Linked DNA regions of Homo sapiens: all the other regions are reported to be linked to region 3. The links are microRNA targets in miRTarBase. Many come from high-throughput screens and were not tested one by one. Region 3 holds a microRNA gene; each other region holds the end of a gene's coding sequence.

Region 1 (4,094 bases), not on the chromosome of region 3:
TGTTGTTGTTTAAAAAATGTCCAGAATATGAAATTGAAATGTTTGCTAGTAACTAAATTACCTGGCTCTTGATGATTTTTTCCCGAAGTAACTTAAATTTTATTAAAATACTAGAATTGTCTTGTAAATGGATGTCAAGGCCTTCTGTGCATTTGGCACCTCATAAGTCAGTTTGAACTGCTGAGGAAACTCTTCTGTTTCCTAAATCTGTTGACTTAGGACAAAAATGGTAATAGCCTTTTGGAGCCTACTAAATTGAATTTAGTTCCAGGCCTGATTTACGCAGGATAACTCAATGACTTTTGTTTCTGTTTCAATATTTTAGGTGTTTAATGAACGCTGCCGAATTCACTTCAAGCCTCCAAAGAATGAATAAAGAGAGATTCTTTTTTTTTTTTTTTTTTTTTTTTTTTTAAGGACTGGGTCATCTCATAAGAGCTAAGCATGACAGATATCAACAGGGCGGGCTTTCTAGGATGATTTCTGAGCCAACAGTCCAAGACCTTTTGTTGATTTCAGCCCCACTTAGCCAAGACCTCAAGTATAAATAATTCTGATAATTATGGAGAAATCAACTGCTATTTTATACTGATTCTGTAAAAAAAAAAAAAAAAAATTTTTGTAACTATTAAAATAATTTTCTGACTCAGTGTACATATTTATTTGATTGTTTTCTATGTTGAGACAGTTCTCTTTTTATTTATTTATTGAATTTTTAGTTTCTATTTTTTTAATATCCTGTCAGGTTGCAAGACAGTTCTCATAAGATAATTTGCATGCACTTTCAATATCTGATTTGTAGTGTATTTTTTAATTTTTATAAATTTATTGGCATGGATGTGGACCTTTTTGGTTATTGATAAGTTTATTCCTTGATTTATCTTTGTGGGTTGATTATAAAAGGGCAGTATTATAAGCTGGACAATGCCCAAAGAAGTTTTCTTTTAGTACCTTAACTGATCTTATTTTCAGATATAAAAACTAATTTTTGGTGGAATTCTTTCCTGGACAGTATTTCCATGGTCATGGAAAAGGAAAGCAGAAATTCAGGAAAGGGAAGAGCAGGGAAGAGCTTGCATGACAGCAAATGAGTTAGTAACAAACCTGCTGTAATTACAGGATTTGGTCCTTGCAAAAAAAACCACTTTCTAGTGTATGGAGTGGTTATGTTACTAGTTTTCTGTTGCTGCTTAACAAATTACCACAAACAGTATCTTACAGTTCTGTAGGCCAGATGGGCAGATTTGACTGGAATTTTTTTTGTTTAGGGTCTCAAAGCTGAAATCAAGCTGAGTCCCAGGCTGGGCTTTGGTCTGGAGTCTAGGGGAAGAGTCTGCTGCTAAGCTCATTGAGTTGCCAGATTGTTGCATCGTGGTCCTGAGGTCCCCATTTCCTTGCTGACTGTCAGGTACCACTCTCAGCTCCAGGAAGCTACCCACATTTCTTGACACATGGCTCCTTCCATCTTTAAGCTGGGCGTGGTGCATTCAGTTCTTCTCATACTTGGAATCTATCTGACTTCCCTTTCTGCTACAAACCAGACAAAATGATTTTAAAGGGCTTGTGTGATTAGGCCTACCACATCTTTTTGCTTGACTCAAAGTCAACTGATGAGAATCATAATTACATCTGTAAATCTCTTGCCAGATTATGTAATAACCACAGACACCAAGTTTCATGGTCTGAGGGATATCTTGGGGAGCCAATTTAGGACTCTGCCCACCACAGTGATTTAAACAAGCCACCTGGCTCTGGCCCAGTTAGATTAGCCAGCTGGGTCTCTGGTGGGCCTGTGTACATTGACCACCATCAGATTATGCATTTGGAAATGAGTGATAAAGATATAAAGTGCCCACCATTCTTTCAACAAAACGTAGAGCACTTACTGTAGGTCAGACACTTTTTGTGGAGATTATAATCTAGTCTCAACAAAAATTTCCTAGAGGTCTGCAGTAAAAAATGCCTTTATATATAAAGTTGAGTAAGTAATTTTTGGGTAGATAAGTGAGTTGAAAGGATGGATGCAAGAATAGAAAGACAAAGATCTCCCTGATTCTGCTGCTCAGGAGGGAATTCAGATCCTTGGAAAGGATTCATTAACAGTCTTTCCAGATTTTCAGGTCTGCCAAAATACCATCTAGCTAATCCAATTATGTTAGTAGAGTGCCTGAATCATTCCAGTGTAACATATGAAAAATGTGCAATGACGGCAGCATGGAGTGACAGTATAAATGAATAGGTTTAGTGTGATGAATGGCATTTAGAGCCTCAACTAATGAAGGAAGATGGATGACATTGCTTTTGAAAGTTGATTTGCCTGCTGGAAAAGGGTCCTGTGTGTAATTACTGCCTTAGAACAATTTGTTGATTTGCTTTTGTTGCCTGAAAGGTAGGATTCAGCAACTCACACACACAGAAAAGAAGTAGAAGGTGCGAAAATTCACAGATGAGTTTGGCCCTTCCTTGGCAGAACAGAAGACAGCCATACGAAGAAACACCTATGATGATACATTTGCAAATTCTTTTAACAAATATTTAAATGCCTTCCTGGGCACTATTAACCACTATTGTTGCATCACTCAGCAAAACAAAAATACCTGGTTTTAAAGAGCTTATATTTGGTGAAGGAAGACAGTAGTAAGTTATATGGTATGCTAAAATGTGATAAAGTTCTATGAAAAAAAATAGAGAAGGAAATCAGGAATGGGATGGAGAGTGGGTTGCAAATGACTGTTTTCAGCTGACTGGAAAATATAATGCCCTTGTCTTTGAAAAGTTGCTTTAACTTGAGATTGAAATGTACCAAGTAAGTGCAGTAATAAAAAGGGTGTTTTCTAATATGTCATTCTTTTATAAGTTGTTCTCCGAACTACATGTGGTGGTTCATGTCTGCAATCCCAGTACTTTGGGAGGCTGAGTCGGAAGGATCAAGAGCCCAGGAGTTCGAGACCAGCCCAGGCAACACAGTGAGACCCAGTCTCTTAAAAAAAATTTTTAAATGGTGCTTGTCTGTAGTTCCAGCTACTCATGAGGCTGAGACGGGAAGATCTCTTGAACCCAGGAGGTTGAGGCTCCAGTGAACTATGATTGTGCCACTGCCTTCCAGCCTTGGTGGCAGAGCAAGATCCTGTTTTAATAATAAGTTGTACACTGAAGATACCAGTTTGGGAAATGTAGTGATAATGTACCCAGTGCTGCTATAGTAGTCCCTGCTAATGTGCCAGTGTCCAGGAGTGATAAACTTGTCATCTTGTAAAATGGGAGATTAATCAAATGTGTGAGCCCTTTTTAAATCAAGAAAAATGAACATTCTATCTAGAGTTAGGTGATCTAATCAAACATATTAGAGATTACTTAGGTTACTCATGATTTCTGTGTGTATTTAGGCTTGTAGAGTACCCTTGATGAACTTGATTGACCCTTAAAAAAGAATCTTTATTATTGAGCATAAACATTGAAGAATAAAGAAGATAGAAAGTGACCACTCCTGATTGGGGTAGCATTTCCAGGACAAGCCTGATTTTATCCCACAGAATTACGTTGGGAAGGAAATTCCCAACCTCTAAAGAGGTTTAGACAAACATGGCTTCCAGCTTCTGAATGCAATGGCCAGCTGGGGGCACCCCTGTCCAAGGGAAGAGGACTTGGCTGAGGTGCATTTGTGTATCTCCTGGTGCATTAAGAAGGGATAGGTAATCTACTGGCACTTAAAGATAATTGCTGTGATTGAATGATTTTCCCACTCCAGTTTTAAAAACCAGCAAGCAAAATTTCTCCTGCTTAAAAGCCCCCAGTGGCTGGCCGGGCGCAGTGGCTTACGCCTGTAATCCCAGCACTTTGGGAGGCCAAGGTGGGTGGATCACTTGAGGTCAGGAGTTCAAGACCAGCCTGGCCAACATGGTGAAACCCAGTCTCTACTAAAAATACAAAAATTAGCTGGGCGTGGTGGCGGGCGCCTGTAATCCAAGCTACTCAGAGGGCTGAGGCAGGAGAATTGCTTAAACCCAGGAGGTGGAGGTTGCAGTGAGCTGAGATTGCGCCACTGCACTCCAGCCTGGGCGACAGATTTTTGACAGATTTGAGACTCTGTCTCA
Region 2 (4,094 bases), not on the chromosome of region 3:
ATAATGTGGATAGGATCTAATGAAAAACAACGTAAGCACCCACCTTAGAACCTAGAATCAGAAATTGTCACACAAAGCTCTGCTGCCTGGATTTATTAAATTGAAATCACTGTGATTATAAATTTGCATAGCTATTGTTATAACATTTCTGTATGAATTATAATTGACATATGAAAATGCTATTCACCTCAGTAATTTGCATAGACAAAAGATGAACATTTCCTTAGGATTACTGTCCTAAGCAAATAATTAAATCATTGTTAGTAAAATGCCACCAGTTCATTTCTGCCTCCTTATGTTTTCAGGCTAATTCTGGTTGTACTAATTTTATTTTTTCGGGGGTTAGAAGTTAGGAGTTCCATTTACCTCTTTTTCCTTTTTTGTATTCTTTGATTCATATACTTTGTTTTTCTTTTTCAGATCTTGTAGAAAATTTTGATGAGGCATCAAAGAATGAAGCTAACTAAAAGTTTGGTTTTTGGAAGCTGGCATGGACTAGATTTAACAAATCAGCTATGTGGTTCCAAAGTTTTACAGACATGGAGAACATCACCTGTTACTAGTTCAGTAATATAAATATTTTGTATATTAATAATGCTGTTTGTTCAGCATTTTTCGGTCATTTGATTTTGCATTTTGCACTTCCTCCCAGGATATTTTTTTGGTCAAAATATGAAGTATTGGTGCAGTTTGAGGGTGTTTTGGTTTTTGATTCCTGGTTTTTTTGTTTTTTGTTTGGGGTATTTTTGGTGTATGTATGTTTATGTATGTGTGTGGGTATGTGTGTATACAGTGGAGAGCAAATTGGAAAACAGTTCTATTTATCCTCCTCCCTCCCCAGTAGAAATAAAAAAAATCTTTACATTTGTTACTTTTCTTTTCCCCCCGTAAGACACAGAATTAATGGAAAGTGAGTATCTTGGATTTCAAATCTGAAGAGATTTTTACCATTAGTGGTTTGATTTTAATTTGCTTGGTTAACTATCATATTTTTCATACACTTCTCTGGATTTAAAATATCTTGAGGTATTTTGCCACTGGCTTCATGCTGGAGTAATGGGTAACATATCTTTGGTATGGTTGCCTTAGATTAACTTACCTAGTCAGACCCAGAAGAACTTCTTTTACTAGCTTGCTTCCTAAATGCCTTTTTTCCTCTCCTTTTGGTCTCCAAATGGCCTGGTCAGCTTTTGGTAATATTCTTCCTCATCTTCCACCTAGCTTGAGAAGGATGTTCTCCATATAGAGTTTAGCGAGTGCCTAATCCCTCCTTTTGTAAGATTTTGTTCCCTCAGCTTGAGGAACAACTTCATCTTCAACTTTTTATTTCTCCCTGATGTTACAGTTTGGTAGATTTCAAACTGGAATAGCTAGCATGTGCTTGCTAAATAATTTTATGCCAGCCTTATCCTGTATCCTAGCTGTTCTTAACAGCAGGTACAAAAATGCCTGTTTTTCAGCAAGGTTGAAATTGGGAATGTCCTTTTGAATCAGAAGAAAATAGGCCATAGACTCATCTCCCAGCACAAATGGGCATTCTATGAAATGGTACTGGCCCTAGGAGGATTTCCTCAACCACTCTCCTACTCTTGGCCTTGAACCTACCTCTGGGTTGGATCTTACTATTGTAGCTGCTCACTATACCCTCCTGCATGCTTAGAATAATGCTTTGAGGGGAGCACTGGTAAAACACAGTATTTATTTTTTTACCTCCTTTAAGAGGACTTGGAGGTAAGTTGCATTCATTCACTCAAGTTTCCCTCTTGCTGTCTAATAGAAGCTTACTTTTTGCTATATCAGCATTTGTTACAGCCAATATTTAAGGACAAAATTTAGAAAATATATCATTTCCTGGCCCATCATCAAACTAATACAGCTTAACCTTGCAGCTACCAACTTTTGTGTCAAGCTAGATATCTTTATTTGATATCTAAGGTGCAAGACCAACAATATATTAAGAGATCTGTAGACATGAAGGCAAAGCTCTTGTATTTTTTTTCATCCAAACACCTCAATTTATTTTATAAATTCGTTCATTTTTCCTGTTATGTTTTATATAATATATGGACTAAACAAAATAAAATAACAGTGCAAAAGAGGAGAATATTTCCTCTTGTGCTTTTCTTGATGTTGTGTACAGAATTTCCTTTTATATTATTCCTCTACCCTCCACCTGTAAATGAATGTTAGTGCAGTAATTGTTTGAAATAATGCCTCATCCAGTGTTAGGTCAGTAGCTCCACAGTCTACACAGTCCAGAATTCTTTCTCTAATTGTCCCAAAGGGGGACATTGTGGAGGCAGAGTTAGGGGGAACCACTTCAAGTGGTTAGGGACAGATAAATAATAGGCAGTATAGCACATGAAAGAAAACACACACTTGGAAGCCAGGAGACTTGTGTCCTAGTCAAAACTCTGGCATTATGTGACCTTGGACAGGTCATCTAACTACTCTGAAATTTATCATCAGTCAAATAAGATTTTATTCTGTTTTGTTTTGTTTGAGATGGGGATTTGCTCTTGTTGTCCAGGCCGAACTGCAATGTTGTGGTCTCGGCTGACTGCAACCTCCACCTCCCAGATTCAAGCGATTCTCCTGTCTCAGCCTCCACAGTAGCTGGGATTTTTTTTTTTTTTTTTTGTATTTTTAGTAGAGATGGGGTTTTACCATGTTGCCCAGGCCGGTCTTGAATTCCTGTCCTCAGGTGATTCATTTGCCTCGGCCTCCCAAAGTGCTAGGATTACAGGCGTGAGCCACTGCACCCAGCCCAAATGAGATGTTTCTAAATCTAAAGTTTCTTCTGCTTCTGCATTTCTGTGAATCTCATTTGAAATTTTTCAGGGAAGGGATTTTATCATTTGTTCAGAGATGTCTTTATTTTTATTAATACCCATAAAACGTTTGTGTATTTGCTTCTTCCTCTTTCTCCTTTTGATCACATTTTAGCTACTTATCTAGAGGATCTCTGGCCAAGTATTCCCTTTTATTGTATTGATAACAATTCTTAATGGCTGGCCTCTCTTGTGTACAATGAGCCAATATTCTTTTTTGTTCTATATTTTTGTATCTTCCCCTTTCCTGAACAAAGCATATTTAGAGTCTCAAAGAAATCCTCTCCACAAAGACATGTTCCTCCCTCTGGTGTGGGTAGACATAGGGTAAGAGTTTGGATGAAACTTTTGTAAATTGTAGTGTTCTTGGCATAAATATGAATTAAATCTTTTTTTATATTTAAATAACTAGTTAAATATGTGCTTCTTACTAAGATTAGGTATTTTTTGCCAAGATAACAATGATAAAAACATTTTGGGGGGGAAATTGACCTTAAAATTTTGGGATAATTCAAGAAATGTCTGCAGAAAATTGATTTATGATCTTAATTTTTGTGTTAGTCCTTTGAGGTTTTTTTGTTTTTGTTTTTGTTCTTTGTAAAGCGCCTTATCTGTTTTGGACAAGTCCAAAGTAAATGGTTGGGCTCTTATATCTGTTTTACCCTTATTTTTCCCATTAAGTAATGGTTTAAGAATATATCAAGCACCTTAATTTGTTGTTAAGTAGCTAGTGCTTACAGGATTCCATTAAATTCACTTTAATAAGCCTATGAAGTTCTTATGAAAAACCCATATCTGCGATATGTTTGATTTGTTTCTTTGTTTTAATTCAGTGTTTAACCCTAGGTATGCTACATACCCATAAATAAGATACCATGGTAAGAGATAGTATGTTATAGTGGGAAAAGCACAAGTTTTTAGATAGAGATCAATTCTGCTATCTACCCTTACATTGTAACCTTTCTGACAGGGCTGCTGCGGTGCACAACTTCGGGAGCCATCACTTATTTTTGTTGTGTTCCAGAAGGTGTCATTTTCATAGACTGCAGTGTGAATAGTGTCCTCCATTAATAATGCAATGATGGCCTTGCTCTCTGAGCCTCAGTTTTATCTATAAAATGGTACCTAGAAGAGTCATGATTTCTTAGAATCCCCTAAATTATTAAGGTGAAGGTAGAAGATGATTAAAGCGTGTTATCTCCTAAGCTATGGCTTAGATTTTCCGAAGCTCATGGTTCTAGGCACAGAAAGTCTCCATTCTAC
Region 3 (4,094 bases):
TATATTATATTAAGGCCCTTACATTTTAACCAGAGAATAGTTTTGGTGAGTTTACATGTCAGATATGTTTACGCTAGAAGGTTTGGATTTAATATTGCAGACAGTAAATAAACAGTGGAAGGCTTTAATCAGAGAGACTGCATGATCAAATTTAAGTGTCATGCTAACAAGGGTGTACTTAATTTTGAGAAACAGCAGATCTGAATTTTGTATCCTGTTGGAAAGCTTGGATTTTAGCCAATGAGTTTCACGTAAGGGGGAACGCAGTTTTTTTTTTTTTTTTTACGGATGGGTCCAGTGGCTTAGAAGAAAACTCAGAAGTAACAAAAGGTGTTAAATTTATAAAGAGCAGTAGCTTTACAGTTAATCTATCAGATAATCAAAGCTTAATTTGCTCTGCCCCAGCAGAGAAGAAATGTGCAAATAACCCCAACCAAGACATTCCCTTTCAATTCTGTCTCAGCCCACTAAAACCACCCAACACTAGATTTCCAAAAATCCACTCTGGGACCGTCAGATTCCAAAGATGTCACATGTTCCCCCCAACCCCCACACTCAATGTCCCAACTCTGCCAGATACATGTCTGTTGGGAGGGCTCAACCAGCAACAGAGAGAAAAAGATATTTGCTAGAAAGAGGAGACCAGACCCACTGGCGTTAAGAAGGGGACCTGGGAGGATAAGATTGGAGAGGCGTGCAGATATGCTTGCACTGGTGAAATTGAGGCCAGATGTGTGAAGTTCCAGAAGCCTCACAAAGAGGGCAGTCCTGGGAGAGTGGAGATTGTAGGAAGAGAAGGAGATTATTTGAAGATCTCCTCAACAGCTCAGAGGTCGGGAGAACATAGCATTGGAAGGAGACCAAATCGAGAAAGAGAAATTGGCCAAAAGTCTGAGTTAGAATCAAGTAACAAATATGCAGTTATCCAGCACATAGTAGGTATGTTATAAAATTTATGGAAAAAAAAAAAAAAAACCCAGACCTGTACACACCCCCTGAAATTTCTATTTTGAACATGGGGAAGGAAATAAGAACTATTTTGGGCTGCTGACCCAACTGACGGGACAGTGGCCAAGTGCCCATTTTCTCCTCTTCCACTGCACTGGTGAAACAGTAGGCATCTTTGCTAGAGATTCCCGCTCCACAACCAAGGTGGCTGGGCTTGCTCCAGAGCCCTGAGCCTGCCAGGGGTGGCTTTGGATGGTGCTGAGATGTGACCTCTGTGATTCTCAGGTGACCAAAGCAGGAAAAGAGGATTGACCAGGTGCATGTGCCAGGGGGGAATGGAGCAGCCTGTGCACCCTGCCAGGTACCCGCCTGCCACGGTGGCTGCTCCCAGCCACAGAATTTATGGGCTGTGAATTTCTCACATCTATGGAGGAAAAGGACAGGACAGGCAGACTGAATAAGCCTGGGAGGCAGGTCAGGGGTTGACAGATCTTCCCTCCCTGGGGGCACCCCAAGTGACCAGCCAAAGAGGCTGGCTCGATACAAGAAGGCTTTCCCCCATTTCTCTCTGCTCTGATTAGTTGGGCATCTGATTTGTCCTTGAGACCCTGATACTGCCACTTCACAAGATCCTAAACTACTGCCTTTACTCCCCACACTCCCCTTCCACCACCAGGTTCTGATCTCCACGGTCCCAGCTACTGACTGGACGCCATCACAACCTTACCAATCTTCAGAATACACTCCTTTCCATCCGACGAAATGATAGAACCCTCTGAAGACTCATTTGAGACGATGATGGAGCATAAGAATCCATCATCAAAACAAATGGAGTCCTCCGAGGGCTCATCCAACACCACCGAGGCGACGTCGGGCAGTGGAGTGCGGGGAGAGGCAGGGCCAGCCAGCGGCCCAGCCCAGGAAAAGAAGGAGCCCCCCAGTGGCCCACTCCAGGAAATGGAAGAGCTGCCCACTGATCTACTCCAAGACATGGAGGAGCCATCCAGTGGCCCACGTAAGGAAATAGAGGATCCACCCAATGACCTACTCCAAGACCTGGAGGAGTCATGCAACGGTTCACACCAGGCAAGGGGGGATCCACTCAGTGGAGCATCTGATAGGATGAAAGAAGCATCAGTCAACCCATCGGGAGCCCGAGAAGAACAAGAGGCTCACACTGACCTGAAGGAATCGGGAAGGGAGGAGACTCCTCAAGAGCAAAACCAGACCGAGCACTCAACCGCAGAACTTATGGCCATGGTGAGGTCCATCATCTCGCTGTACTTCCGAATGCAAGACCTCAAAGAGCAACAGAGAGTAGCAGAAGAGATCTTGATCAAAGGGATCAATGCAGGCCAACTGCCCGCCCCAAAGCACTTCTCTGGCGATCGCAGAGAATTCCACGAGTTCATCGTACTCTGCCAACTGACCTTACAGAGCTACCCAAGAATGTTCTATAACGACCGTCTGAGAGTTGGCTATGTCATCAATCACCTGTCCGGCTTGGCATTAGAATGGGCCAAAGCTCTACTGCAGGAAAACAGCCCCCTGATCGGAGACTTCCCAGCCTTCCTGGAGGCCATGTCCGAAGTGTTTGAGTACCGCCAGGCACTGCGTGTGGCAGAAGAGGCCATGTTCACCATCAGGCAGGGCGGCCGCTCTGCCACTGAGTACATCGATGAGTTCCAGAGCCTGGTACCCATCTTGGGCTGGCCAGATGAAGTCCTGCAGGCCCACTTGTGCCAGGGGCTCAACGAGGAGATCAGGCACTATCTATTCCGGGTCCCTCAGCCGGATTCCCTAGACAGTCTGATTGTGCTCATCCTGCAAATAGAAGAGAAGCTGGCAGAGAGAAGAGCTATGCTCAGGCTGCCCCCCGAGGCCCGCCCCCGGAACCTGACCTGGATCGACTCACCTGCTCCAGAGAGGTGGATGGTCAGCAGCTGGTTGCCCAGCGAAGTCCATCCGGACATCAATCGCGCCCACCTCTTCCTGCTGCTCATGGTGAGAGTGAACCCCTACCACAGCGTCGCGGTCCAGGCCCTGGTGGATTCGGGAGCTGACGGCAACTTCATGGATGAGAAGTTCGCCCAAGAGCACTACGTCGAGCTCTACGAGAAGCCGTACCCACAGCCGGTCCAATCCGTGGACGGCTCGCTGATTGGCAACGAGCCTGTCTGGCTCTACACGGAGCCCCTGGTGTGTATCCACCAGAACCACCAGGAGTCCATCGAATTTGACATCGTACCTTCACCGAACTTCTCTGTGGTCCTAGGCATCCGCTGGCTCCGAGTCCACGCCCCCGAAGTCGACTGGATCAAAGGCCGCTGCACCTTCCACTCTCCCTACTGCCTGAAGAACTGCTTCCGCCCGCCCCCGCCATGCATTGCCCTAGAGAGGCACGGCATGAGCCTGCTACCCGGACTGCCACACCCATACTCAGACCTGGCCGACGTGTTTAACCCGAAGGAAGCAGATGATGAGACTTCCGACCAGCCAAGCTCAGACGGATCCGATGATCTTTCTGAATCAGAGCCCTCTGAGCTTCAGCAGGCTGGAGACAGTGATCACAGCGAGACCTTTTACGAGTGTCCCTCCACCGCGCCTTGGGAACCTGTGGGTGCCAGGATGCAAGAAAGAGCCAGGCTACAGGAGGAATACTGGGACCTGCAGGACATGCTGACCAACAGACAGGACTACATACAGATGATTCCGGAACTGTTTGACCAGTTACACGGAGCCGAGTGGTTCACAAAACTGGAGCTGCGTGGGACCATTGTGGAGGAAAGCGTGAACGGGCACCGCACCGAAGATGTGTGGAAAGCAGCGTTTGGTTTGGAGCTTGAAGAGATGAAGAGCTACCAGCCGTTTGCGCTCTCCCCAGACCCTATCATACCTCAGAACGTGATTCACTTCATCCTAAAGGACATGCTAGGGTTCTTTGTGCTTTCTTATGGCCAGGAAGTCCTGATCTACTCAATGAGTCAGGAGGAGCACCTCCACCACGTCCGCCAAGTCCTGGTCCGCTTCCGCCATCACAACGTCTACTGCTCCCTGGACAAGAGCCAGTTCCACCGCCAAACCGTGGAATTCCTGGGCTTCGTCGTCACCCCCAAAGGGGTGAAACTGAACAAGAACGTCATGAC
Region 4 (4,000 bases), not on the chromosome of region 3:
AGAAAGTGACAAGTTTACAACGAAAAAAAATCCCGGCCGAAACCCATTTTCACCTTTGCGGTCATGAAATCTTTTTTCTGGCGTCGATAATTCGAGTATTTAAAGGGAAGTGCAATGACAGTAAAAGTCTGCCTGCAAACTCACATGCCCAGCAGACCCGCCTAGGCATCAAGGGAAGGGCCTTCCCGGAGAGCGAATGGAGATTATTTCTTCCCAATAAATCCAGAAACCTCAGATGACGTGGCTCTCAAATCACCTTCCTCACTGGGTTCCTGTCCTGTACTTAAAGAAATCCTCTCTTCTGGTCTCGAAGCCAAAAGAATTTTTGTATCCCAGAAAAGAGCTCTGCTCACTTAAGAGATCTTCTCGATATTGGAAGTGGTGTCTATTTCCCATTTTAGTTGCAAAATTTGCAATAGAGTTCCCTGTGCTCAAGCTTCCTTTCAGCTTATGTGAGTGGACATCACAGCTCTTTAAACTGACCACTGCTGTAAATCAAGGATTTCCTGTCTCAGCAGCACAATCACAAAATCCACGACTGTCCTAGTGTAAAGAATGTGGCTTTATTCCTTTGCATAACCCAATTTAAGACTCAGTTTTAGAGAAGGCATGAGGCCCACCACTAGGCCAACTGTAAGGCACTGAGTCTTTCCCCAGAACCAGGCCTTTGGAAACAGGACTCAAAAGAAGCAAGTGGCTAAGGAGAAAGTCGTTTTCCTGATTGATGAAACTTCTCCCACCCCTCCCCTTTCTAAATAATAAACTCTGGGGAAAGACTGGAGGGCTGCCTTGTGTTGGTTTCAAATAAATCTTCAATAGGCTCTTTCCTCACCCAGAGAAATGAATCACCCCTGGGAAACAGACGATTATTCCCCCATTTGTCTGCCTAAAACCAGTGGAAACAAGTACCCTCCACTGTAGATGCTAACTTAGGTCTTTCGCCTGGCTGAGAGTGGGGTAGCGATGGGAGGGTAAAAAGGGATGGAGGGGGATGATTTGCATAGAAGAGAAACCCACAGAGATGCTCTGCCTGACAGAGGCAGTACTGGGTAGGCATCAGGGACCCAGGAAAGACAGGGCAAACGCAAATGCTTCCTAGACGTGCTCTCCTTGCTGGATTCTAGAAAGAGACCACAAGCCTCCCCCCATTGGAGAGGAGCTTTGGCCTCAACCAACATCTAGGTGATGTTACAACTTATTCAGAAGCAAATCCTGGGGTGTTGCATTTCAATCAGGGTTCTATTTTCTTCAGAGGGAAATGGAGGCTTGTGTTGTTGGGGCTATCCTCACTACAGCTCGATTTATTGTCCCCTTTAAACAAATAGACAAAACTGTCTTGCTGGATTACTCCTGCTTAGACAAACCATTTAGAAGTGTTATGGCGGGAGGTGAAAAGAGAAAAGTAGTTTATTAAAATGACTCCCGTTTTAGCTGACTTTTTTGTAGAAGATGCCCAATGTATATAGCTAATCAGACCAGCAATCTTCTAAGGGAAGAAAGAAGGGAGGATTCTCGCTATAAATCTGCAAGATTCTGAGACTTGGGTGGTGGTTTGACTCACCCGGAGCTCACCTTACAAAGCAGAGAAGCCTTCCCTTTCTCTGTAGGCCATGCTTCCGAGGGTGCAGGCAAGCAGGGTGAGTATTTGACTATTTTCTAAGACCACTCTTTGTTGACTTTTAAAATGTATACTAGATTTTAACATGGGGGGAAAAGCACAAGTTCAATTTAAAGTGAAAAGAAGTTAACGTACTGCTTCATCCTTGTTTGTTGCCAACACAGTCATCGTAGTGACACTCCACCTCTCATTTCCTGCCACTTTAAGTTTCCAGATTACTTTTTAAAATTCAATTCTCGAGTTTATGAGGGTCTGATTACTGCAGAGAAATGAGCTCAAATAGCATAATACTATGAATGTGGGCAATGCCCGCTTGAAGGACATTTAGTTCCAAAAATCAGCACCAATTTACCCATCCTGTTTACTTGTACGTAATCACGGAAAACCTTCACATCTGCCCACCCATCCAAATTCCTCACCCAGATACACCTTACCTGGTCCACGTGTTTCCTATCCCACTACCCCCATCTGCTAAGATTTTAGGCAAAGGCAAAGCCACGATTTAAAGGTTCTTTTTTATTTGAAATCTCATCCAGAAACACTGGTTATTAATAAATATATCATAGTTATCAAGAATATATAAAAAATAAAGACAGGTATCGTCTTTGAGGCCCTAACAAAATATTTCAAGCAAATGTTCAGGAAAATAAAAACGGCACCCCTCCCAAAACCAGGATAAGTTTTCAAAGCTGATAATAGAGAGAGCCAACCCCGCATGCAGAATAACTGAGCGAGGGGGGGTGGCGCAAGCTACTAGAGGGAGCCCAGGCTTTTACAATAGCGGCCCCAGAACAGCAAAGGAAGGTTCCGAATAAAGTTTGAAGGGGGTGGGGGTGGGAGAAGAAGCGCGTGTGCGTGAGTGTGGGTCTTTGCACTCTGCCCCTTTTTTCATTTCATACAACCACAGACAGATATATGGAGTACTTGGGATAATTCACTAATAAATCCTTGTTACAAGGAAAACGGCACCACAGCCTGCACGACATATTCAGACAAGATTCATTTAGAAGCGTGCATGCATTCTTTTGACCTACACTGCGTCGAAAGGAAAACCCACATAGGAGGTGTCATGCCCTGGACCTCGGTTGAGATTCAAAACTTGGGTCTTGATCTCTCTCGCGCTCTCTCTCTCTTTCTCTCTCCATTGTCTCTAGAAAAACTGTGGCAAGGACAGAGACAATCATAATCGCATCCATCTCAAGAAAATATTTACATTTGTTTTGCACAAAAGGGATGGCCGTCTTTTTCCAAAGCGAGAACACAGAGTCAGAGAAAGCCAACTCAAAAGTCCCTTCGCAAGTTTTTAACTACACCGATCCCATCTTTATACAACAAATGCAGTTTTGACAAGAGCATATGGCAGTGAAAAATACTGGCGCGGCATGGGGAAAAGAAGCATGCATGCAAAACACACGACATCTGGTTCGAGTCCCCCTTTGCTACCACCTAGAAATTGCGGTTTGATTTTGGTCCTTTCCCTCCGGGGGTCAAGTGGAGTCTGAGATCTCTCAGACAGCGTGGGAGGCTGCGGGCCCCGGAGCCTGCCCTCCCGTGGGCCGAGCGTGCAGCCTCCCTCTTCCCTCCCGGCCCGGCACCGCGGCCCCTCCCGCCGCTCTCCCTCCTCCTTGGCAGCCGGGCCCGCCCGCTGCTCACTTGAGCAAGTCCTTGGACTCGGCCGACAGCCGGGCCATGTTGGCTGTGGAGAGAGCGGACAGGTGCGGCGGCGGCGGCATCTGGCAGATGGTGCAGGGGCAGGGCAGACCAGCCCAGTGCTGGAAGCCGCTGCCCAGCTGCAGCGCGGGCGGCGTGGAGGGCGCCTTGAGTAGCGAGTGGGGAGGCCGGATGGTGCCGATGGCGGGAAGTGAGGCGGCGGACAGCGGTGACGAGGCGTTGCCAGATGAGAGCGCGCCGCCCAAGATGGGGTGCACCGGGTGCACGGAGTTGGCCGCGTGCGCGGGGTGGCCGGCCGAGTGGCCCACGGTCCCGCAGTGAAAGGCCGAGTGGTGGCCCCCATAGATCTCGCCAACCAGCCTCTTCATCTCCTCCAGGGAGCTGGTGAGCATGAGGATGTAGTTTCTGGCGAGCAGGAGTGTGGCGATCTTGGAGAGCTTGCGCACCGACGGCCCATGCGCGTAGGGCATGACTTCGCGCAGCCCGTCCATGGCTAGGTTCAGGTCGTGCATCCGCTTGCGTTCGCGTCCGTTGATCTTCAGCCTCAACTGCTGTAGGTCCTGCTCCGACAGCTGCTTCTTGATTTTGTACTTGCTGCTCTCTCCCGCGGCCTTGGCGCCAGCCCGCGAGAGGCTTTCCCCGGGCATCTTCTGCATCATATCGCCCTGCGTGGACGAGACCGAGTTGAGACGGCTCTCCTGGTGGTGGTGG
Region 5 (4,094 bases), not on the chromosome of region 3:
TCGCGGGCTACACTGCTATGCTCTGCTGTGCTGTCCGGGGTAGCCCCAAGGTAGGGAACTTTAGGCGCTGGTCCAGGCCGACCAGGAGGCAGGGCTCACAGGCCCCGACGTTGAGCAGTCCTCTCCCCAGCCTGTCTCCCCTGCTTTCTCTCCACCTTGGGGTGTATGGACCGGGTTCCTCCCCCTGGGCAGGGCCATGGTACTCACTCTTGGTTCCATGTTTGTTTCCAGCCTTGGGCATAGTCAGGGACTCTCGTGGGACCCCCCGAGTAGAAACACAGATGTGTCTCCCTGGGTCCCTGCCAGGTCCCCTCTCAGCCTGGATGGCTTCCCTCCCTCTCTTTACCTTATTTATAGCCCAAGATTTCCTGGTTCAAGAATGGCCTGGACCTGGGAGAAGACGCCCGCTTCCGCATGTTCAGCAAGCAGGGAGTGTTGACTCTGGAGATTAGAAAGCCCTGCCCCTTTGACGGGGGCATCTATGTCTGCAGGGCCACCAACTTACAGGGCGAGGCACGGTGTGAGTGCCGCCTGGAGGTGCGAGGTGAGGAGCCCTCGGGGCCAGGGCCTGGGAGATGGGAAGAGCGGGCGGCAGTGGGGACCCTGGGCTTTGCTCCGTTGTCCTCGGCCAAGCACCTGCCCTGGCTGCAAGGGCACGGACCCTGCCACGCCCAGATGGGCAATAGCTTCCAGAAGGCTGGGAGGACACAGTGACATGGCCTCCTCTTCTGCAGTGCCTCAGTGACCAGGCTGGCTCCTGGGGATGGCCAGGTATGTACCACCCGACACCCAGGGCACAAGTCAGTGGCTGAGCCCTGGCCCTTGGTCCTGGGGCAGCCATCAGTAAATGGGAGGCTGTAGGGGCCCTCCATTCACTCGTAAGATAACCTGTGTTGCAGGTACAACCGGATGCCAGCCCCGTGCCAGGAGCCTGGAGGGAAGTTGGGGAAACCCCTCCCTACTGTTGGATGTATGTGTGACAAGTGTGTCTCCTGTGCTGCGATGGGGGATCAGCAGGGCAGTTGTCGGGCAGTCCTGAGTGGGTGTTGCACAGACTGGTCCACAGGGCTCCTGAAGGAAGCCCCTGGATCTTTGGGGTAAAAGGAGGGTGGCCTCAAGAAACAATGTCTGGGGACAGGCCTTTCTGGCCTGCTATGTCTTCCCAATGTTTATTGGGCAATAAAAGATAAGTGCAGTCACAGAGAACTCACTCTTCTCAATTTCGGTGTGCCTGTTTTCATAAAAATGCACAGGGGATGGCCAGGTGCGGTGGCTCATGCCTGTTATCCCAGCACTTTGGGAGGCGGAGGCGGGCCGATCACCTGAGGTCAGGAGATCAAGACCAGCCTGGCCAACATGGTGAAACCCCGTCTCTACTAAAAATACAAAAATTAGCTGGGCAAGGTGGCGCGCCTATAATCCCAGCTATTTGGAAGGCTGAGGCAGGAGAATCACCTGAACCCAGGAGGTAGAGTTTGAGGTGGGCCGAGATCATGCCACTGCACTTCAGCCTGGGTGATGGAGTGAGACCATGTCTCAAAAAAAAAAAAAGAAAAAAGCCCAGGGACATTGATCTTCACAGCAAAGTGAGAGCAGATACTGTTTTTTGTTTTGTTTTCCCGATGATTAAACCAGGCCCAGAGTGGTTTCTGAGTTCATAAAACATTAACGCTAGAAGGAACCTGTCTTCCCCTACAGCATTCACTCTTCAGATGATGAAACTGAGCTGTGACAGCGGAAAGTGCATTTAACTGGTCCCAGGTGCTCAGCGTGATCCTTGTGCCAGGGGCCGTGGTCACAACCGCCTGGAGGTGGGGTGAGGCAGAATCTCAGTGTTGTGATTGTGCTGGGGTGGAGCTGCACTAGGTGGCTTTGGAGTCCCAGCCAGCAATAAGCCAGCAGCGGGTTCAGACCCATATCCCCGGTGGGAGACAGCAACCCAATCCAGTCCAGGACGCTGGGCACCAGAAAGGTGTCAGGGCCAGGGCCCCACTCTGCTCTCACTTCCCCCATGGGGAGCCTAAATCCGAGCATCTGTTTCCTTTTGGGCGCGGGAAGCCAGCAGGTCTCAAATTCCCTGAGAGTGCAGCCAGGTTTTTCCAGGACAGAATTCCATGAAGGCAGCTCCTAGGGGAGCTTCTGGGAGTTCTATGCAGTGGAAGACACTCCTGGCCAGGAGTCCGGGGCCCTGTGGGAGGCCCTGGCTGAATCACCACACCTCTCTCGACCATACCCACCTGTAAGGGAACGGAGAGGGCCAGGGCCTTGGCTTTCTTTCACTTAATCTCAGTTCAGGTGAGGACGCCCAGTCTGGCTGCTCCCTCTAGCAGCCTGTTCATTCATGGCAGCCCAGCTCTCTGCAGGGCCCTCAGGTGCCCAGGAAGGAAAGCTCCTCCCGCAGCCTTGCTCTAGGAGCCCAGAACAGGGGAGCTGGGGCCTCCGTGTGCCAAAGCTTGGACATGGATGACCTCATCTCCTTCCTTCCTTCCAGCCTGAGGTGACTTTTTAGAGTCCAGGGATAGCTTTCCTCAGGCCTGAGCCAAGAGGAGGTGTCATTTAACACAAGGCAGCCAGGGAGCCTGAAGGGAGTTGAGGACATTTATTTCACATTCACACAACTGTACATTTTCTATAAATAATGTGGGGCTGAAATATTTACAGTCATTTCTTGCCCATACCCAGGCTGTCTCTCCCTCCTGACACCCCGTGCCTGGAGAGACAGCCTGCAGACAGATGTGCAAACCCAGCTTGGTCTTTCCTGCCCCCTCCCTGATGCTCAGGCAGAGCAGCCAGCGGTCCCTGGGACTCCACTAGCCTCGACCACTCCATCCTCTGATGCCGAAGGCATGGCAGGCCACAGGGAATTCGCCGCTCCACTGCAGTCACAGAGGCTGTGGCAGGCAGCAGCCAACACTGCGGGCCCTGGGCAGTAGCTGCCGGCTTGGGAATGCAGAAGGAAGCAGGGAGGCTGCCACTCACTCCGGCTGCCCCCCAATTCTTCCCTTCCTCTCTGTGCCCTTCCTCTGAGAGGGTGAGCCCCAGGGTTCCCTCACTCCTCACAGAGTGAAACTGCTCCAGGCGCCCAGTCATGCCGGGTCACAGAGAAGGGAGAGCCAGACTCTTGCAGTGGACAGTTATAACGCCAGGGACAAGGACAAGGAACCACAACACAAATGTCTCAAGGACACAAAATAGTGGGTTCACACCGGCCCCACAGACTGTACACATTCTTGAGCCCTGAGGGGAAGGCAGTTTGGTCTTCTGGGAGTGGAGAGGGAGAAGGTGGACACGCTCAAGACACACTCAGAGGGACACATAACCGGTAACCAACCAAGCCACAGCAGGGGGCTTGCAGAGGACACACGAGCATCATCCACTCCTCAGTCACAGCAGCATCGTGCACTTGGGAACAGCAAGGGGCCAGGGGCGTGCCCTGGGCTGGGGCAGCTGCGTAGCCCCTCTCCATCAGCTAGAGACAGGCCGGGGCGGGGTTCTGAGATCTTCCTCACTGCTATGAACTGCAGCCACGTACGAGAAGAGACATAATACGGAGTAGCAGATTTCGTGGGCCTAGAGGAGAGAAAACCAGGCGGATCACGATACTGAGACTCCTCCATCTCCATATGTGAAGGATCTGCCAATGGGCAACTCCTGCCCTAACACTGGGCATGGGCCTCTGGGCTAAACGTGAGCTCCAAGCAAGGAAGCTGTCCCCATGGGAGAGGGGATCCGTGTGTGTGTGTCTGTCTCTCAGGGCTCAAGACCTGTTTCAGCCTGAGTTGAACCTTTGGCAACAAAACGAGGTCCCCACTCACCCCTGTGCGCTCAGAGGGCCCTCCCCTCCTCCTGTCCGAAGGTCCCCCAGGGAGCCCTGCGCACCGTGGCCCATCAGGGTTGAGCGGCACACTCACCATTGGTGTCTTGTACTTGTGGCTCACCACTTCTTTAATTTCAGGAACTAAAACCGGACGGGCAAGAGACAAAACAGAAAGTTCAACACTAAGAGCAATCGTGCCATGCTCCCCCAGGCGGCAGCGCCCGGCGTCAGGGTCCCCTTCCCCTCTGTGGCCTCTCACAGTGGCTGCAGCAGCTTA
Region 6 (4,094 bases), not on the chromosome of region 3:
GACTTATAAATCCTTATAAGGATGTTATTATAAATCCTCCTTTTCAGATGAGAAAAGAGAGTCAGGGTGGTGGGTAAGTATCACATGGGTATTAAGGGACATGTTTGTAATCATAGTTTGGGATCTTTGAGACTGTTTTTTATTTTTTATCTCTTACACCTGTGCTATATTGTCTCCCAGTAGCTTTTGCATTAAGTGCGTAAATAGATGCATGCATGCAAAGATGCATATTAAGTTTCAGCTATAGTACATAGCTGAAATGCATTAACTGGTTACCTACTGTTCATCAGTTACTCTGCTGTGTACCTTAATTTAAGAACATTTAAGAGTTTAGGCCTTGTGTTTCCTTTGAATAATTATGTGTGTTTTCCTCCACTTCATTTAGATGAGCTGAAGCACATTATTGGGGCTGAGACAACACGGAAAGGTATTCTTCGTGTTTTTGAAATGTTTCAGCACAACCAATTAAATAGGAGAATGGTTTATGTCTTCTTGGAAGGCTTTTTAGAAACCTTATTTCCACAGTATAAATTCCGTGAACTTTTCAACAAACTGCATTCACGGTCAAAGCAGATGCAGAAATATAAACAGAAACTTCAAACTACTCAAGCGCCTTCTTTGCAGAAAAGGTGACACTCCACTCTATGAAGCTGGTGTTCATTTTGTCCAGGACTAATGGTATGGACAGATCTTCTGGGGCTTAACTCAAATACTGTTGTGTCTGCACCAGTCTTTTAGTGTCTCAAAATAGATTATTAATACATCCATAAGTCTGTGGTTCTTCTCATTCTCATCTATAATCCACCACTACCAAGAGAGATTTCTGTGTCTTAAATGATTTGGTGCATATTTTGCAACATTGAGAGAAAACTGCCCCCATCTCAAGCAAGAATGGCGTTGGTTTCTTCCATTTCAAACTAATCAGCATTCTCCAGCAATGACAAAGTGCCAGAGTGTATATATGAAAGCTAAGGAAAGCACAAAACAATGGTTCAGAGATAAATTGGCTAATTTGTTTAACAGTTGGAGACTGTGCAATGTACGACTTGGAGGAGTTTGTTTGGCATAATGATTTTGTAGGTCTGTCAGCATTTTGATATATTGTGGATTAGCCAGGTGAATGATCCTTGAAACATCTCTTTCAGGTCTGGAGAAAGAGACAGAATGCCCTTAAAGTGTGAAATAACCTTATACCTGAATTACAGTTTTGTGATATAAAATAAAGCTGAGTATAAAATAAAACCAATCAAACACAGAATTTGATTGGATTTGTTATTCATTGGTATACAACAATTTTTATTCTTATGTGTGCTTTAAGGGCTGTGTTTTGCTCTTAGGGTACTCAATTTTATGTTTCCTTTTGGCATTCTTTGTGCAAAAAGAAGCATGTGGTGGCTCTCATTTAAATTTCAAAATTATTAGTTTTATCTTTAACAGATTACTGATTATACAGAAGATATAATTTATTGGAAGAACTGCCAAATACATTTTGTCCTTCTAAAAATATGGAAATTTAAATAGTAGTCTGGAAAGTTACCATATGATAATTTTTAATTGTGTGATCTAGACATGCCTTAGGTAACTGCAGAAATAGCAAATTAAATGATTAATGAGCTTATTAGTCATAGTAAACATACAGATTCCTAATTCTATGACAGTGTACATATATGAAAATAAATGATGAAAAAAGAACTATAATATTTTTAAAAATATGCTTTTATTTATATTTCACATAATGTAAAGTTCTACAAAATAAAGCTAGTAGGCAAGACCCCTCAGTGTATACCTTTAAACCCATAAATTAATTTTATATCAATAAAATAAAATACTTTCTCTAGTTTTGGAGCTTCTGTATTTCCTATAGTTTTCTGACTGTCCATTTTATCCATCTTAGAAGTATTCACATCCCTTCTATGCAGGATTTCTGCATAGTTTTAAATACTTTCATTGCCTAAGGGTTTGGGTGTGTCAGCTTTTTTTGTTTTAAAAATATTTAACACTAAAACCTTAAAATAATGAAGCTACTTATCAGACCACTGAGCCAAGATCCTGGTATTAAAAGAAAGTCTGGGTGCTTAAGATAAAGGGACAGAGTATTGGTATCCCAGTTATTTGGGAGCTTTAAGATTGGAACAAGATATCACTGTCTTGTTTTCACTTAGATCCTACTTACAAAGTGAGGGTTATTAACAGAATAAAGCCTTCCTTTAAAGCTTTATAATAATCATATTTATTAATAATGCTGTTGTGCATACTTATAGTATGCATATATTCAGCATATGTTGCATGTCTTCAGAATTACATAAAATGAAATCCCTTTCATTGCAACTTGCAAGTGAGAAAAGATCCTTAGTGGCTCTGGTGGAAGAAATAGTATTTCTTCTTCTCAGGGTGTCTCCCTGCCTTGGCCCCTCCCTGAGCCCCAGGCTTTAAAAGTGAAAATGTTTGAAACATGAAACATGTCTGTAGGAAGCATCAGCATGGCCATAAGTGCAGTGATTTTCATATATGCCTCTGCCCATTTCAAATATATTTTTGACATGAATAAATCTAACAGTATACAGAATAATTCATGTAAGACCCTAACGTGTACATGTGAAAAAGCATTTCTATATAATGTGAGGAGCACTGGCCATCAATTAGGGAAATAAAGGTCATGTAATATTGCAAATTTTCAAAATAGAGCCCTGCAAGATAACTGCAATCATACCAAAAACTATTTGAGTAAATGGATTTTTAAAGTAATTTTTGTTTAGAAGAGTTTATATTTCAGAAGCAGAAAATGTCAAATGATAGTCTTTGTAAATGGTGGTGCACCTTCTCTATGCACATCTGTCTTTTACATCAGAAAGAGCTGTGGTCATGCTAAAATTAGAGATAACTTTTTGAATGACTTGGTCAAGCTGTGTGTAAAATATTTAACCATAAGTCAAGTACAGTGTACTATGTTTAATAAAGTTACATTTAATGCATTTATTGCATATATGAATATATACATGAAGAGGCTTTATGTCTTCTGGTATTTGATTTTGAATGTTTTTTAAGTCAGTGGTGCCTTTAGGCAAGAACTTTCGAAATTAATCATTCTTTGTGTTTTCTGATTTTTCAGGTAACATGTACACTATTTAGAAACCATCATAGTTTATTCACCTTAAAAAATTGATTGTATTATTTAAATATATCACTTAGATGGGCATTTCCTATAATTAGGATATTCCAAATAGTTGCTGAAATCAATTGTGCCATTGACCAATGGATGCACTTGGTTAGCCTTAATTTTTTTAAAAAAAAAAAAAACAAAAACTTTCTTGAATATTTCAGTTTGTTCATTTTAAGTTTGTGCTGCTGGTATTTGGGAAGAAAAATCAATCAGTTAAGTGCTACCAGAAAGTGTACCAATTTTTATAAAAATTAAGAATGATATAAATTTCACAATCTAAAATTTTAATTTTGTGCAATATTTTCATTTAATGCATGTGTATTTGAGTAATTGTAAGATAAATGAATTTTTAATTTTTTGAGATGTAGCTTAAACTGTCTTCTTAATCCAACAACTTACATTCCGTTGTTGCTGCATCCTTTTATTTAAGGACTTGTTTTAAAAGTCTTTTTGTCACTCCTTGGAAAATTCTTTTATTAGTAGTAAATTTTGCTTTTAGGAGCATGGCTCCTGTATTACAAGGGAAAAAATATGAAGAGCACATTTTAGGATTATAATTGTTAAAAGATAATGTGTGCATATCATTGTACAGTAAGTGTCAACTGTGTGCCTAACTGTTCTATCAATACTTTCTTTCTTTAACAAAGAAGAAACAACAATCAGAATGTCAGTTATTTTTATTCAACTAAAAGGATTAAAAAATTTATTTGGTTTGTGTTCTGTCCATTAGAAAATACTAATAAAGTATTAACAAACATTTTTGTTGAGTTCATTTAATAGTAATGTATTTTTGTTACTTTTAAGATGCTTGCTCAGTAGTCTTATTTTTAGTATCTGTTTGTATTTTCTTTTCTTTTAGATATCAACCAATTCAAGTTCCAGGTTGATAGATGAGTGCTTGAGTGATTACTGACTTAAATGGACTGAATTTAAC
Region 7 (4,000 bases), not on the chromosome of region 3:
AGTGGAGAGGGGGTGCCCCAGAGGCTCTGATGCTCTTAGAGGGGACTGCAAGTTGGCAAGGCCAGGGGCATGAAGCACAGTGTTTTATGATTTTATTTTATCCTAGATAAGGTTGAAGAAGACACCCAGTCATAGAATGAGCCCCGCCTCCTGACAGCAGCCGGTTCAGAGCAAAGGCCTGCTTCTTAAACCCTCGCCAAGCCACTGAGCACTGGCCCAAATCCAGTAACAAGTCCTTTCTAATACCTCTTTCAGAGACTCCCCCTGGTTCGCTGTGGTGTTCATTCCCCCTTACTGCAAGAAGAAACCCAGCTTGTTAACCACAGGTGAGGTGTGCTCCCAGTGGTCTTTGGCTGCAGGGCATTGACAAGATAGGTCCCATCAAACACCCCCATCACTTCCAAGATTCCAAGATATGCGCACTTCATCTGTCATTTGCACATGAGAAAGCTGAGGGCTACGGAGGCAACCAGACTTGTCAAAGGTCACAGAGTAGGTAAGGTAACATTGTATCATCCAAATGAGGTATCTTCGAGCGTGAAAGGGGCCTCCTAATAACTTAGCAGAGGCAGTCGGTGTCAACCGGGACCTTCCTGGGCAGATCAGGTGTGTGGTCTCCCCATCATGCAGCAAGAGCCAGGGAGACCAAGCCTGGGTCTCACCATCTCACTCCACTACCCCAAGCCCCCTGCAGATGCTAACTCTAGAACAGGGTTACCATCTTCCTGCTGGCAGGCCCAGCAACCAGAGGCTCTTGTTTAAGTCTAAAGCCACTGCGGTTGTGGTTCAGGGGTGTGGGGAATCACTCCTGAGATTCAGCACCACACAGCACACCCCACGGTCATGCCACTGCAGTGAGGGCTTACTTCCGGAAGAGGGCCTCTGGTGCCCGTCAGGCGTAAGGCCTCACGTATCCTGCCCCGAGGGAAGGGGTGGTTTTAAAGAAAAGAATTTGCAGGTGAATGAAGATGACCCCTTTAAATGTTGAAAGTAGTTTTATTTTAGCCCTTAGTGCTGACGCTGTTTCTAACGTGGGTTGTAGGCTGCCCTGCCTTAGGCAACAGAGCACAGGAGCATGCTACCCCTCACCTCATCCGAAGACTCAGCTGTGACCAGGAACTCCTGTCCTGAGTCATGACAGCAGAGAGGGTGTACCCTGTGGCATCCTTCACTGCAGAGGCAGAAATGACCCAGAAAGAAAAGGAAGTGTGTTCCCAGGGCCATGACCTTGTAACCCAGCACACAGGGGCATCTCCTTCCCTAGGCCAGGACCCCCGGCCTCAACCCGGAAGCCCTTCCCTAGGCCGGGAACCCCAGCCTCAACCCAGAACCCCATAGCCCAGGTGAAGGTCTCTGACTCCCAGGTGGCCCAGGGTGCAGGCTCTGAGGGCGTGGTCCTGGTTTGAGGTAGTGTTACTGCCATTTTCTCTGCAGCTGCCAGGATCCTGGGCTGGGGCACAGGCAAGCGTTGCAGGGATCAGCGTAACAATAGCATCACCCTGAGATGGTTCAATAGGGTACAGTGATGTCTTCAGGGGCTGCAAAGACAGCTTGAGCTATTTCCCCACCATACTCAACTGCCCCAAACAGCTGGGAGGCTGTCACTCTTCTGCCTCTGGTGTGTCCATTTTTTACTTCTCTGTTCCCACCTCAGCTTCTGCTCTGCACTCACAGAAATCAAGCTCACTAGATTGTGAGCCCTCTGAAGGCAAGCACGGTGTCAGTAGTTCATGTCTCTTTACCCCTAGAGATCACAGCTCAATATCTGGCATATAGTAGATGCTCACTAAATGCCATCCAATTCCAATTGTTTTGTTTTGAGGCAGGGTCTCACTCTGTCACCCAGGCCGGAGTGCAGTGGTGCGATCTCGGCTCACTGCAACTTCCATCTCCTGTGCTTAAGCTATCCTCCAGCTCAGCCTCCCAAGTAGCTGAGACTACAGGTGTGCACCACCACGCCCAGCTAATTTTTGTAGTTTTAGTAGAGATAGGGTTTCGCTATGTTGCCCAGGCTGCTCTCCAACTCCTGGCCTCAAGTGATCCACCCACTTTAGCCTCCCAAAATGCTCAGATTACAGGCATGAGCCACCGCACCTGGCTAGCCAACTGATTCAAACTGAAGTAGGCCAGGAAGATGAATTTCACCTACAATTCCAAGTCAAAGCAAATGTATTCCAGAGGCAGGGGTGGGGGGTGGTGTTCCTCTGGGGGCTTTTTGCCTGCTTTGTGAATACATACAGGCCATTTAGAAGTTTGAATGCTGGGAAGTAAGAGGGCTGTGAGTCTAAAAGTTGGGAACGTGGGGGAGAGTGATTTTATCTGCAACAGGTTCCTGGGTCCTGGTGAGTTCTGTACACCCTTGATGACCACCGATTCTGGGCCAGGCCAAAGGCCCATCTGGGCACAGGCGATCTCAAGGTGAGTAAAGTCAAGATGCTGCCCTTCAACGGGAGGCAGGCAGCCATGCCACACTGACAAATATACAGGTCCCAAAGGCAGCGCAGAGAGGCAAGACCACCTGGTTCCAGGAGGCAGCGACATCAGGAAAACCTTTCCAAGGGAGGTCATCTGTGTAGGGGTTTGAAGGGTGAGCACGAATTTGCCAAGCTGAAAAGGGAGCCAAGGGCATCCTGGTGGAGGAGAACAGCTTGGGCAAGAGTGTGAGCCGCAAGATGGGCAGGGGGGCTAGGCTTGGAACTGGAGGAGCAGAGAGAATGAGGTCAGCAGGGGTCAGTCACAGAAGGTTTTGGGTCCTGGCCAAGGAGCGATGGGAGCTGCAGGAGGAATGTGGCCCAGGAGGAGATGAGGCTCCCTCTGTGTAAAGACGGATCACGCCATCTACCAAGTGGACTATAAGACACAATAGGAATGGGAAACCTGACTGGCCTTCACAAAGGATCAGGGGCCCAGAGGGAGCACCAAGGAAGGTTCCTCTCAGAGGTCAGCTTTGGGGGAAGGTGGAAAATGCTTTTGAGGGCTTCAGCTGCTGCAAACCTCAACAAATCATATTTTGCCTTCAAAGGTTGGCCAAAGACCACTAACTATTGGAAAAACAAGAGTCCACTAATAGTCATCATCCCCTCCCTGTGTATTTCTTTACCATTCTCAAAATGCCACCATCTCATTGAACCTCCATATCATCCCATTTTGCAGATAGGGAAACTGAGGCCCTGTGATGTCACACAGGGGTCAGCAGCAGTTCCAGACTAGAAGCTACGGAGCACAAACATCTCAGCCTTGGGTGTCAGGCTCAAAACCCAGCTCCTTGTCCGGGAGGAGGTCCCCGGCTCCATCTGGCAGCCCATAGTACAGGTCTTCCTCTTCCTTCTCAGGTTCCTCCCCACCTGTGTCCGAAGCCTCCTTCTCCTCCACCTTTGTCCTTGGGTACCGCTGCCAGTTGTTGGGCAGGGCTATTTCCCACTGCTGCCCCTCTTGGGGCTCATCCTCCAACGTTGGGGCATCAATCAGGGCAAAGTCTTGGAAGCGGTCCAGCGGGCACCTGCAGCCCTGAGGTTCCTGTTGTGGGGAACAAGCTTCCTCCCTGTCATGTGGAGATGCATTGGGGCTGCTGCCTTCACTGGAGTCCATGTCCAGGTCATCTTGGAAGGAAGCCAAGGGGGCAGGGCCCTGGGGACAGGCCAGGGGGCTGCAGGGACAAAGACCACAAGGGCAAGGGTATCTCTGAGTCAGAATGCCTGGGTCCACATTCCAGCCGCTAGCTGCAAGACCTAGGGTAGGATAATCCACCTTCCCGGGCCTCAGTTTCTTCCCAATAACAGAATTCACTCCTGCAGTTCTTTCTTAGGTTTACAGCAGATAATATGTGCAAGGCACTTTGCACAGTGCCTGGCACATAGAAGGTGCTCATGAAATAGGGCTATTACTATGCTATTATCTGAACCAGGTCACTCATCTACTTCTCCAATTATTCAGGGTTCTCCTCTGTTGCTCATAGGCCCAGTTACACTGAGGTGTCCCCGGGTGTCTTTGCCTCCCTCAT

The links. The annotated mature microRNA hsa-miR-136-5p reads ACUCCAUUUGUUUUGAUGAUGGA and lies in region 3 at 1,761-1,783, opposite strand. An mRNA with a match to its seed (bases 2 to 7 or 8) in the 3' UTR can be bound and repressed. Matches are read on the target gene's strand: a 7mer-m8 pairs with bases 2 to 8, a 7mer-A1 pairs with bases 2 to 7 and ends in A, and an 8mer does both.
Region 1: miRTarBase lists MIX23 as a target of hsa-miR-136-5p. Seed matches in the 3' UTR shown: 7mer-A1 at 563-569.
Region 2: the mRNA of BTF3L4 is a reported target of hsa-miR-136-5p. Seed matches in the 3' UTR shown: 7mer-A1 at 540-546.
Region 4: the mRNA of OLIG3 is a reported target of hsa-miR-136-5p. Seed matches in the 3' UTR shown: 8mer at 2,757-2,764.
Region 5: miRTarBase lists MADD as a target of hsa-miR-136-5p. The part of its 3' UTR that is shown has no 7-base or 8-base seed match.
Region 6: miRTarBase lists SNX13 as a target of hsa-miR-136-5p. The part of its 3' UTR that is shown has no 7-base or 8-base seed match.
Region 7: the mRNA of BSND is a reported target of hsa-miR-136-5p. The part of its 3' UTR that is shown has no 7-base or 8-base seed match.

The regions. Positions count from the first base shown.
Region 1 is chr3:122,356,151-122,360,244 of GRCh38, reverse strand. It overlaps MIX23 (mitochondrial matrix import factor 23), which reads left to right. Exons shown (of 5, transcript NM_001017928.4): 5 at 326-654. The coding sequence ends at 376. Among named protein-coding and RNA genes, the nearest start is that of MIX23, 25 kb to the left of the region's middle. RefSeq lists a silencer at 1,636-1,836.
Region 2 is chr1:52,086,292-52,090,385 of GRCh38, forward strand. It overlaps BTF3L4 (basic transcription factor 3 like 4), which reads left to right. Exons shown (of 6, transcript NM_152265.5): 6 at 421-4,094. The coding sequence ends at 467. Among named protein-coding and RNA genes, the nearest start is that of BTF3L4, 32 kb to the left of the region's middle.
Region 3 is chr14:100,882,405-100,886,498 of GRCh38, reverse strand. MIR136 (microRNA 136) reads right to left here and starts at 1,797; the gene lies at 1,716-1,797. It overlaps RTL1 (retrotransposon Gag like 1), which reads left to right. Exons shown (of 4, transcript NM_001134888.3): 4 at 1,625-4,094. The coding sequence starts at 1,711. MIR127 (microRNA 127) reads right to left here and starts at 3,520; the gene lies at 3,424-3,520. It overlaps MIR432 (microRNA 432), which reads right to left and starts at 2,016; the gene lies at 1,923-2,016. RefSeq lists a silencer at 513-807.
Region 4 is chr6:137,490,085-137,494,084 of GRCh38, forward strand. OLIG3 (oligodendrocyte transcription factor 3) reads right to left here. Exons shown (of 1, transcript NM_175747.2): 1 at 2,115-4,000. The coding sequence ends at 3,268. Among named protein-coding and RNA genes, the nearest start is that of OLIG3, 2.3 kb to the right of the region's middle. RefSeq lists an enhancer at 3,220-3,719.
Region 5 is chr11:47,328,522-47,332,615 of GRCh38, reverse strand. It overlaps MADD (MAP kinase activating death domain), which reads right to left. Exons shown (of 37, transcript NM_001376571.1): 36 at 3,912-3,958; 37 at 2,585-3,570. The coding sequence ends at 3,466. It overlaps MYBPC3 (myosin binding protein C3), which reads left to right. Exons shown (of 35, transcript NM_000256.3): 32 at 1-50; 33 at 358-544; 34 at 735-771; 35 at 900-1,210. The coding sequence ends at 745. Among named protein-coding and RNA genes, the nearest start is that of MYBPC3, 22 kb to the left of the region's middle.
Region 6 is chr7:17,790,584-17,794,677 of GRCh38, reverse strand. It overlaps SNX13 (sorting nexin 13), which reads left to right. Exons shown (of 26, transcript NM_015132.5): 26 at 386-3,917. The coding sequence ends at 633. Among named protein-coding and RNA genes, the nearest start is that of SNX13, 150 kb to the left of the region's middle.
Region 7 is chr1:55,007,860-55,011,859 of GRCh38, reverse strand. BSND (barttin CLCNK type accessory subunit beta) reads right to left here. Exons shown (of 4, transcript NM_057176.3): 4 at 1-3,646. The coding sequence ends at 3,232. Among named protein-coding and RNA genes, the nearest start is that of BSND, 11 kb to the right of the region's middle.